2 linked regions of the Homo sapiens genome follow. The protein of the gene in region 1 purifies or fractionates together with the protein of each later gene. This does not show direct contact. Each region holds a gene or a part of one and is shown on either strand. Other genes may lie near its edges.

The links.
Region 2: the proteins of PEAR1 (region 1) and ZAP70 purify together in Homo sapiens (affinity purification with western blotting, with the first as the bait; one study listed by BioGRID). This does not show direct contact.

Annotation. Positions count from the first base shown.
Region 1 is NC_000001.11:156,900,218-156,903,717, forward strand, and holds part of PEAR1 (platelet endothelial aggregation receptor 1 isoform 1 precursor), read left to right. Parts: intron 1-1,970; exon of another isoform or gene 1,971-2,068; intron 2,069-2,393; exon of another isoform or gene 2,394-3,500.
Region 2 is NC_000002.12:97,726,250-97,731,457, forward strand, and holds part of ZAP70 (tyrosine-protein kinase ZAP-70), read left to right. Parts: intron 1-5,208. UniProt on the Homo sapiens protein: Tyrosine kinase that plays an essential role in regulation of the adaptive immune response. Regulates motility, adhesion and cytokine expression of mature T-cells, as well as thymocyte development.

The sequences.
Region 1 (3,500 bases):
TGCATCTCGAGGTGGAGGAGAGAGAAGTGTCAGCTCATTCTTGACTGTAAACACATCTCAGTTCCCACGCTTCTGATCATGTTCTTGTGGCAGCCCCCACCCCCATCCCCTTCTCCTGTCCAATCCCCTGGCAGCTCCCCCACCCCATAAGAGAGACTTTTAAAAAGAAGATACAGAGCCCCTGGGCTTCCCATCTGGACTTGGGAAAGAGTAGAATCATGGGGAGTCCTCTGCCAGCAGCCTGGATTTGGATCCCAGCTCTGACACTCCTGGCTGTGCGGTCCTGGTCAGGTTTCTTACCCTCTCTGTGCCTGCTTCCTCATCTCTGAAGTGGGCCATAACACCTACTACAAGGGGTTAATGTAAACTTTAAATGTGATGATCCACGTAAATCTCTCAACACCCTGCCTGTCGCAGCTCAGTGAACGATACGTGGGGTCACCTTATGATTCTCGGGAGGGAAGGTGTTTGAGTCCCTCAAACCAGAGGCTTGGAGGGTGAAGGTTGAGTAGGGGAACAGGAGGGGGCCTCTGCATGAGAAGAAGCAAGCCTGCAGCAGGGGTGCTCCAGGGTCCCCCTCAGTGAGTGCACTGTGGGCCCCCAGGGCAGAGCAGGGGTCCAGGAGTGGTCTCATTTCACCCCCTTGAGGGGTATATGCAATCTCTTGGGTATATGCAATGGGCCCATTGCTGCTGTGGCTGGAAGGGGTTGGGGGAGCATGGGCCAGGCTCAGGTGCCCTGCCCCTCAGGGACAAAGGCTTAGATGGGAACTAGCCTGGAGGCCAGGCTGGGGCTCTGGGCTCCTGGTCTGGCCTGTGTTCCCTTCTCAGAGGCAAAGGATGGTCAAGCCAAAACCTTCCTCTTCCTGCCAGGACCCCCATCTCATCTGTCCCCTCCCGGGGCCACCCACTGATCTCCCCTGACCCCACCCTGGCTTCCAGCCCCTGGGCTGACCAGCTGATGCCTCCTCCGCACTCTGGCCCTACCCTGAGGACCTTTGGGAAAACAGAACCTACCCACCCTTCCAGCCAGCTAACCTCCCAGCCAGCCAGAAGTGGGTGGGGATGAGAGTCAGCTCCTCCTCATGCTCCTCAGTCCTTCAGTCCATCTCAAAGTCCCCCAGGTGAACCGTGTCCTCTAGAAGTTGGCTGGGAGGAGGTGACAGGGACAGGACTTGGGTGGGTAGGGGCTGACAGGAATGGGAGGAAGGACCTTTTCTCGGCCCAACAACAGCTCAACCTATATGGCACTTCCTCCCTGGGCCTTAACTCGACTCCTTCCTGCAACAAGTTTTGTCCATGCCACCACGCCATAGGCTCTGTGAACAGATCCAGGGCAGAAGGATGGCTGGGGAGTCCTTGTGTGTCTCAGGAGATGAGGCTCACCCAGGGACAAGGGTGATGAGCCTGGCTTCAGACAGACTGAGCTGCAGTTGGAGCACAGGGGCCCCACGCCAGGGCCAGAGCTGAGGGTCAGGGAAGAGGGGAGTGTGGAGACCGAGAGATGAGGCAGAGGCATATGGAGGGCTCGGGGTCCTGACCAGGGCCCTGGCTGCCAACCACACTGAGGGAGAGGTGGAGAGAAGGTTAGCTGGGGCTAGGCAGAGCGATCCCTGGAGTGGGCATTGGGCCTGGGAAGATGGCTGGAGCAGGGCAGGGTGGGAGGGGATGGTTTGGGGACATTGGGAGAAGGGATGACTCTATTTGGGAGTGGGGATGTGTCTGGGTGATGTGGGGGTGGAGCTCTGGGACAGACTCTGGGGAGTGTCTCTAGGGCACTCCTGACTGTGGCCTCTCCCCTTCAGAGGGGGCCACAGTGTCAGCTCTGGAGACAAGCTGCCAGAAAGAGGCTTCTGGTCATGGCCCTCCCGTATGCTACCCACTGCGTTCAGGATGGTGGGAGGATGGAGCCACCCCCGTCACGCTCCCTGCTGTCCCCCTTCCTAGCCAGGCTCTGTTTCCTGTTTTCAGGCTTCATATCCTGAACGCTGGGATCCCCCAGGACATTCCCTGGCCCCCAGGCCCCAGGTCCCAGGCCCCAGGGCTGAGCTGTGGGCAGGCCCCACCTGGTGAGTTACTTGGGGACTGAGGATGGATAGGAGGAAGCACAGAGGAGGCTAGAGGCTGAGATTCGCCCTGCGGGAAGTGTGATGGGGCATGCGGCTGGGCTGCACTGGAGGGGTGGGTAGACGCTGGCACTGGGAGGATAGGTGGGCCAGCATCCTGGATGAAAGGCTGGAGATTTGGCTGCTGGAGGGTTAAAGGTGAAGGAGGAACATGGGCGGCTGAGATGGGGTTAATTTAGGAGCCTAGACCTGGAGGGAAGGAGCGGCTGCCCTTCTTGGGGCTGAGAGTGGCTTTGGGGACCCTGGGAGTGTGTGGGTGTGGGGTGTGGGGTAGGGCCAGGCAGCAACATTCCAGAGATACTCAGGGGGGTAAGGGGCCAGCAACCGCGACCTTTCTCTCGTCTCAGAAAAATTATAAGCAGATGTGGGCGCCTCGGGGAGGCGTAGAGCAGGGAGCCAGAGCAAGTTTTGGGAACACGGAATGCAGACCCTGAAGCCGGCTGCGGGGATGGGCACTGCGGTAACTCATCCTCTCCTGAGCTCAGGAGCTGAGGCAGCAGAGCCGTCTGAAGTGCTGGGAGCCAGGGGTGGTGGGGATGGAGAGGACCCCATTTCCGAATGGCTGACAGGGCAGTCTGAGGGAGGCGGGAGCTTTTCCTTAAATGCAAGGCCAGGTTGGTGACCTCTTCAGGTGATGGCACCTAGAGTTGGGTGTTGTGGTGTGCTGGCTAAGGTGTCACAACTGACTCTGGGAGGGAGACTGGCCTTGGGTTTTAGTGTTTGCTAGTTTCTCTGGTGTCAATAACCCCCCATGCCTGATTTCAAGCTACTCACGTGACATCACTGAACATGTTGCTAGGAAGAGATGCATACAATTGGCTCTCTGGGCCCGTATGAGGTGGTTCCAGCACACCACTGGTTGGGAGGTCACCTGGACCCAGCCCCACTCCCACCATATAGAGCAGGAAACCCCTGACAGCGTTTCATCAGGCTGGTTTTGGCTTCTGCCTGCATATGTCCAGTGACAGGGAACTCACCACCTGAGGTAGCCGATTCTATTCCTGAGCCGCTCTGACTGTTGGAAAGTTCTTCCTCTGACTGAGCCCAAGGCTGAGTCCCTCATCACTTCCCCTCACTGGTTCCAGTCTCACACCTTGGTACAAATATCAAAGTGCCCTGGGTAGGGCCTGGGCTGGGGGCTGGGGATTCAGAGATGAAACGCACTGGGTCCCTGCCTCTGGAGGTCATGGTCAGGGAGCAGGCACTGGAACAGTGGGGTGGGGGTGAATGATACTGGGACCCCCAGAAGGAATGAGTGGGATCATCTGCCAATGAGCATCAGGAAGTGGAGGAGGGAAGGGGTGGCACCTGAACTAGACCTTGAAAGATGGGAACTCCAGGTGAAGAATGAGACGTGAGGGTGTCTAAGCAAACT
Region 2 (5,208 bases), on another chromosome or scaffold:
TTTTTAAAACTCTGCTGAGTGTTTGACAGCCCTGCTGGGGCTGTTGCTCTCTGGTTTGGACACGGGATCTTTTCTGTAACAGATGGTATCCAGGTGCAGCTGAGGTCACTCAGGCCTCAAGACACAGATAAATTGGTGCTGCCTCTTTCCCATGACCTCAGGAAGCCCAGTGTTTTCCCCCAAGAAATCTGTGGGGACAATTCTTGGGCCTTCCTTCTCGTGAGTGCTTCTTGGCCTGAGCCCCTGCCCAGCAGATCCCTTGGGTCATCTGCCTCCCCCAGGGCTGTTTCCTCTCCTGAGGTCAACCCACTTGGAGGAAATGACCACATCCCTTGATTTTCCTCACCCATGTGAAGTTTCTGTAGATTGCCTGCAGGCCTCTTGCAAGATGCAGCTCCCTCTCCAAGATTCTGTTGTGGGCTGATAAAATAACTCTTTTCACCCTACCATACAGATTCAGATTTAGGCTGTAAATTGGAGTGGAGTTTCCAAGGCTTCTGAGGGAGCTCTTAGATACATGTTGCACGTAATACTCAGTTGCCGGCACAACTTCTGAACAGGACAGGGCTGTTTTCTCTAAGAGGAAACCTTTGCATTTGTATCAGTTAGCTTTTGCTACATAACAAGCAGCCCTAAGATTTATTGGCTCAAAATGACAGTTTATTGCTCTTCATGATTCTGTGAGCTAACTAAGCAGTTCTGGTTTGGGTCATCTAGGCTGGGCCTGAATAGGCTGGGATGGCCACACTCACATGACTGGCCATTGGCTCAGTGTCACCTGGGTGATGGGGATGAGCTGGCCCAGTGCAGCCATCATCCAGCAAGCTAGCTGAAGCTTGTTTGTGTGGTGGTGGTGCAGGGTTCCCAAGATCAGTCAGAGAGGACAGGGCAAGTTCAAGCCTTTGTTTGTGTAATGTCACTGATGTCCTAATGGACAAAGCAAGTCATACGACCAAAACCAAAGTCACTGTAGGGAAGGGATTCCTTAAGGGAGAGGAATGCAGGGAGCCATTTTTGCAAACGGTTGGTCGTAGGATTGGATGAAGCAAGTTGTCGTGAAGGTATGGGCATTGTGAACATGGGTGTTGGGGGCTGTCTCTCTTTCCTTTTGGACTGTCAGCCTGAGGGCAGGGCCTGCCCTGCTGCATCTGGAGGGCTCCATCTTGCAGTACATGGTGATGGCTGGTCCAGGTATTACCCACCTTCCTCCAGATGTTGCATCACCCCACCCCAGGTGTGACCCTCGCCAAGATGTTAGTAATGTTTGCTCCCACGTTCTCACATGCTCATATCCCCCTCGTCCATTACATGCTACCCCAGGTGCCTGAGAGTCCAGGGGCTCTCCCCAGGCTGGACACGCGAAGAAGGCTCTAAACCCTTCCTATTGATGTAGCTGATTCTTTCCTTCCGTCTCTGCTTTCTCTTTCATAAAATGTAAATTCATCTGTCTTCTTTGATTTTATAATCTGAGTTTCTTCTCTGTTTTCCCCCTACATCCCCAATGTAGCTTTTCATCCCCACCATCTCTGCCTCTCTTCTGTCTCAGTTTTCCTTTCTTCTTCTCTCTTTCCCTCCCCACCCCCATCTCTCTTCCTCATCTTGCACTCACACACACACATACAGGTCATGATTCTGCCACTCCAATGGCTTAAAAATTTCCCCCAGATTCCCTAAAGCCTCCTGAGAGTGGCAGAGGATTCTAGGGGGTGGGAGAGTGAGAGAAGGGTTGAGCAGGTGGGATTTGGGCCCCTGTTCCAGCTTGAATGACGACAGCCGCTCAGCTTTGATCTGTTTGCTATCTTAGGCTTCCACACACAATGTTGTGTGGCAGAGGTTTCACTGCCCAAAGGAAAAGTTCAAACAGTTTTTGTGTAACACAGCAGAGCTCATGACAGGCTTAGAGTCAACCAGTCTGCTGAGATTAGAGGAGTCTCAGGAGAGCCAGGGCCAACAGCTTTAAGCAGCTGTCTGTGCATTGCATATCAAACTGGCGTGCAGTCTCCCAGGCAAATAGGACAAGCGTTGGCGGTGGGAGGGTGTGGCTAGGAAGGAGAGATGCCCAGCATCTGGGCACAGCATAGAGCGTGTGGCTGGCAGTGAGGTCCACAGCTGGCACAGTGGTATGAGGACAATGACTCATTCTGGGTAAACGTCAAGAGACGAAGCAGCTACAAAGAGCCAGGCTCCTGGAAAATTAGGCAAGGTACGCTTTGGACAGAAACTGTGAGAGCTTCTTCTTGTGGTTCCTGTAGTCTATAACTGCTTTCTCAGGGCTTGGGGTGTGAGAGAAAGACACGTGCTACTCAGGCCTAGAGTGAAGACCAGGACCACGCCTACCATTGATCACAGTTCATGGTTGCCGAAGAACAGATTTAATTGTACCCAGGGCTGTGCACTGCCAATGCTGGCTTGTTTCTGTGTTATTGGCAGCAATTTTATGGAACCGGCTGATTCGACTTTAAAAGAAACTTGTCCTGGAAAGGGCCTTTAAGAGAGTACATTGTCAAGTGTTTCTTTTTTTGAGACAGAGTCTTGCTCTGTCACCCAGGCTGGAGCACAGTGGTGCAATCTTCGCTCACTGCAACCTCTGCCTCCCGGGTTTAGTGATTCTTCTGCCTCAGCCTCCCTGAGTAGCTGGGACTATAGGCGTGCACCACCACGCTTGGCTAATTTTTGTATTTTCAGTAGAGACAGGGTTTTGCCATGTTGGCCAGGCTGGTCTCGAACTCCTGACCTCAGGTGATCCACCCGCCTTGGCCTCCCAAATTGCTGGGATCACAGGCGTGAGCCACCGCGCCTGGCCTGTCAAGTGTTTCTTATCCTCTCCTGGACTGCAGACCTCTTTGGAATCCTACTGACTGCTCCTTTCACAATCCCCCAAAGCATATTCACCTCAAAGACTTTGCAGACAGTTATATGAGATCATGGTTGGTCCTGAACCTCGTCCTTAGAACCCTTTTCAGGTCAAGAAGTTATGATTTAGACCAGTTACCTCATTTTATACATAAGGAAACCGAGGCACAGCGAGGATAAGCAGTTTATTCAGGGTTTCACAGATAATCTGTGACAGAGCTGGGTGTTAGTCCTAGGTAGCAATTAACTGTAGAGTCAGAAATGCATTTGAATCCTGGCTCCCCCTCCTATCTCTTACCAACTCTGCAATTTAGGCAAGATACATAATCTTGTGCCTCAGTTTCCTCATCTGCAAAATGGAGATAACAATAGTGCCTACTTTGTGGGGAGTGCTGTGATTATAGGACAAATATGTGAGGAATTTAGAACCAATATCTTAATAAATAAATTGTAGCCCTTTTGTTTTGTTTTGTTTACAATCGTGAACCAGAGACAGATGTAGCTCTTATAGGTTCTATGTATTATTTTAAGAGCAGAGATACAAGTTGATTTTTTAGCCTGTACTTCTGGCTTAAGTGCAAGTTCCAACTGCAAGAACAAAGAACTGCCACTACCTAGCATTTTTTTTTTTTTTTGTAAATCAAGTAGAACTTATGGTACTGAAATATATGTGGTGATAACACCAATGTCTTAGCTTTTGTGGTTATTATCTGGGAATTTGCAGCTGCTCTTTATGAACTCACACATCTCTTTCCAAAGAGTGTATTGGTTAGCTTTTGCTGTGTAACAATGTGCTGTATTCATACCCTGAAATGTAGTGGCTTAAAACAATGGTCATTTACAGCCAAGTGTGATGGCTCACACCTGTAATCCCAGCACTTTGGGAAGCTGAGGCAGGCGGATCGTCTAATGTCGGGAGTTTGAGACCAGCCTGGCCAACATGGTGAAACCCTGTCTCTACTAAAAATACAAAAATTAGCTGGGCATGATGGTGGGTGCCTGTAATCCCAGCTACTTGGGAGGCTGAGGCAAGAGAATCACTTGAACCCAGGAGGTGGAGGTTGCAGTGAGCCAAGGTTGCACCATTGTACTCCAGCCTGGGCAACAAGAGCAAAACTCTGTCCCAAACAAACAAACAAACACCGATCATTTATTCACTCTTGTTTTGCTTGGCAATTTGGCTGGTTGCTTGGTAATTTGGGCTGAGTTCAGCTGGGTGCCTCTTCTGCTGGGTTTTTGAGCTTACTCATGTGGCCACAGCCAGCTGGAAGATTGGCTGGAGCTGGATGGTCTCTGGGATGGCCTCACTCACATGAATGGCTATTGGCCACTCATGTAGGGTGCCTTGGTTCTCCTCCATGGGCCTTCTCTAGCAGGCTAGCTTGGACTCATTCCCATGGTATTTGGAGAGCTGCCAGGAAAAGCAAGAGAGGGCAGGCCAACCTCAATGTTCAACCATTTTTCAAGCCTCTGCTTGTGTCATGTTTGCTAATGTCCTGTTAGCAAGGCACATGGTCAAGCCCTGATTCAGAAGACAGAGGAGGAGGCCCCACCTATTGATGGGAAGAGCTCCCTAATATTGTGGCTGTTTTCCCCCAGTATTCCACATGGAAGTTTAAATAAACAAATAAGGAGGAAATTATTAGTTCTAGAAGAAAGAATGAAAGAGACAGACAGACTTGGTGGCTCACGCCTGTAATCCCAGCACTTTGGGAGGCCGAGGCAGGTGGATCACGAGGTCAGAAGATTGAGACCATCCTATCTAACACAGTGAAACCCCATCTCTACTAAAAATACAAAAAATTAGCTGGGCGTGGTGGTGTGCACCTGCAGTCCCAGCTACTTGGGAGGCTGAGGCAGGAGAATGGCATGGACCCAGGAGGCAGAGCTTGCAGTGAGCCGAGATCACGCCACTGCACTCCAGCCCGGGCTGTGGAGCGAGACTCGGTCTCAAAAAAAAAAAAAAAAAAAAAGAGACAGAGGAGGGGAGATGGGAGGTTTGCTGTTTGCTGGTGAGTGGCTTGGCATGGAGTCTCTGTTGTCAGTTTAAAACTTCAGGTTGTGACCCTTAGGAGGTGTTTTCACTTCTCACAGTCCCTGGAGACCATCACCTCCAGGCCAGCCTGCCACCTGCCTCTGACTTCCACAGCTCTGAGACCCCCAGGGCCAATAGCCCTCCCTCCTCACTGGAAAGCTGCACTTAACAGGAGCTTGTGCCAGTGACTCAAAATAGAAATGTTTTGTGGGAGATGTTGACTGGTGTCACTGCGGGGTTTCACGTGACGGCGCTGCATCTGCTGTCCCAGCCTACTGTCTCTGTGGGATGTTTGTTTCCTAATTTGTGGTGGGTTCTCT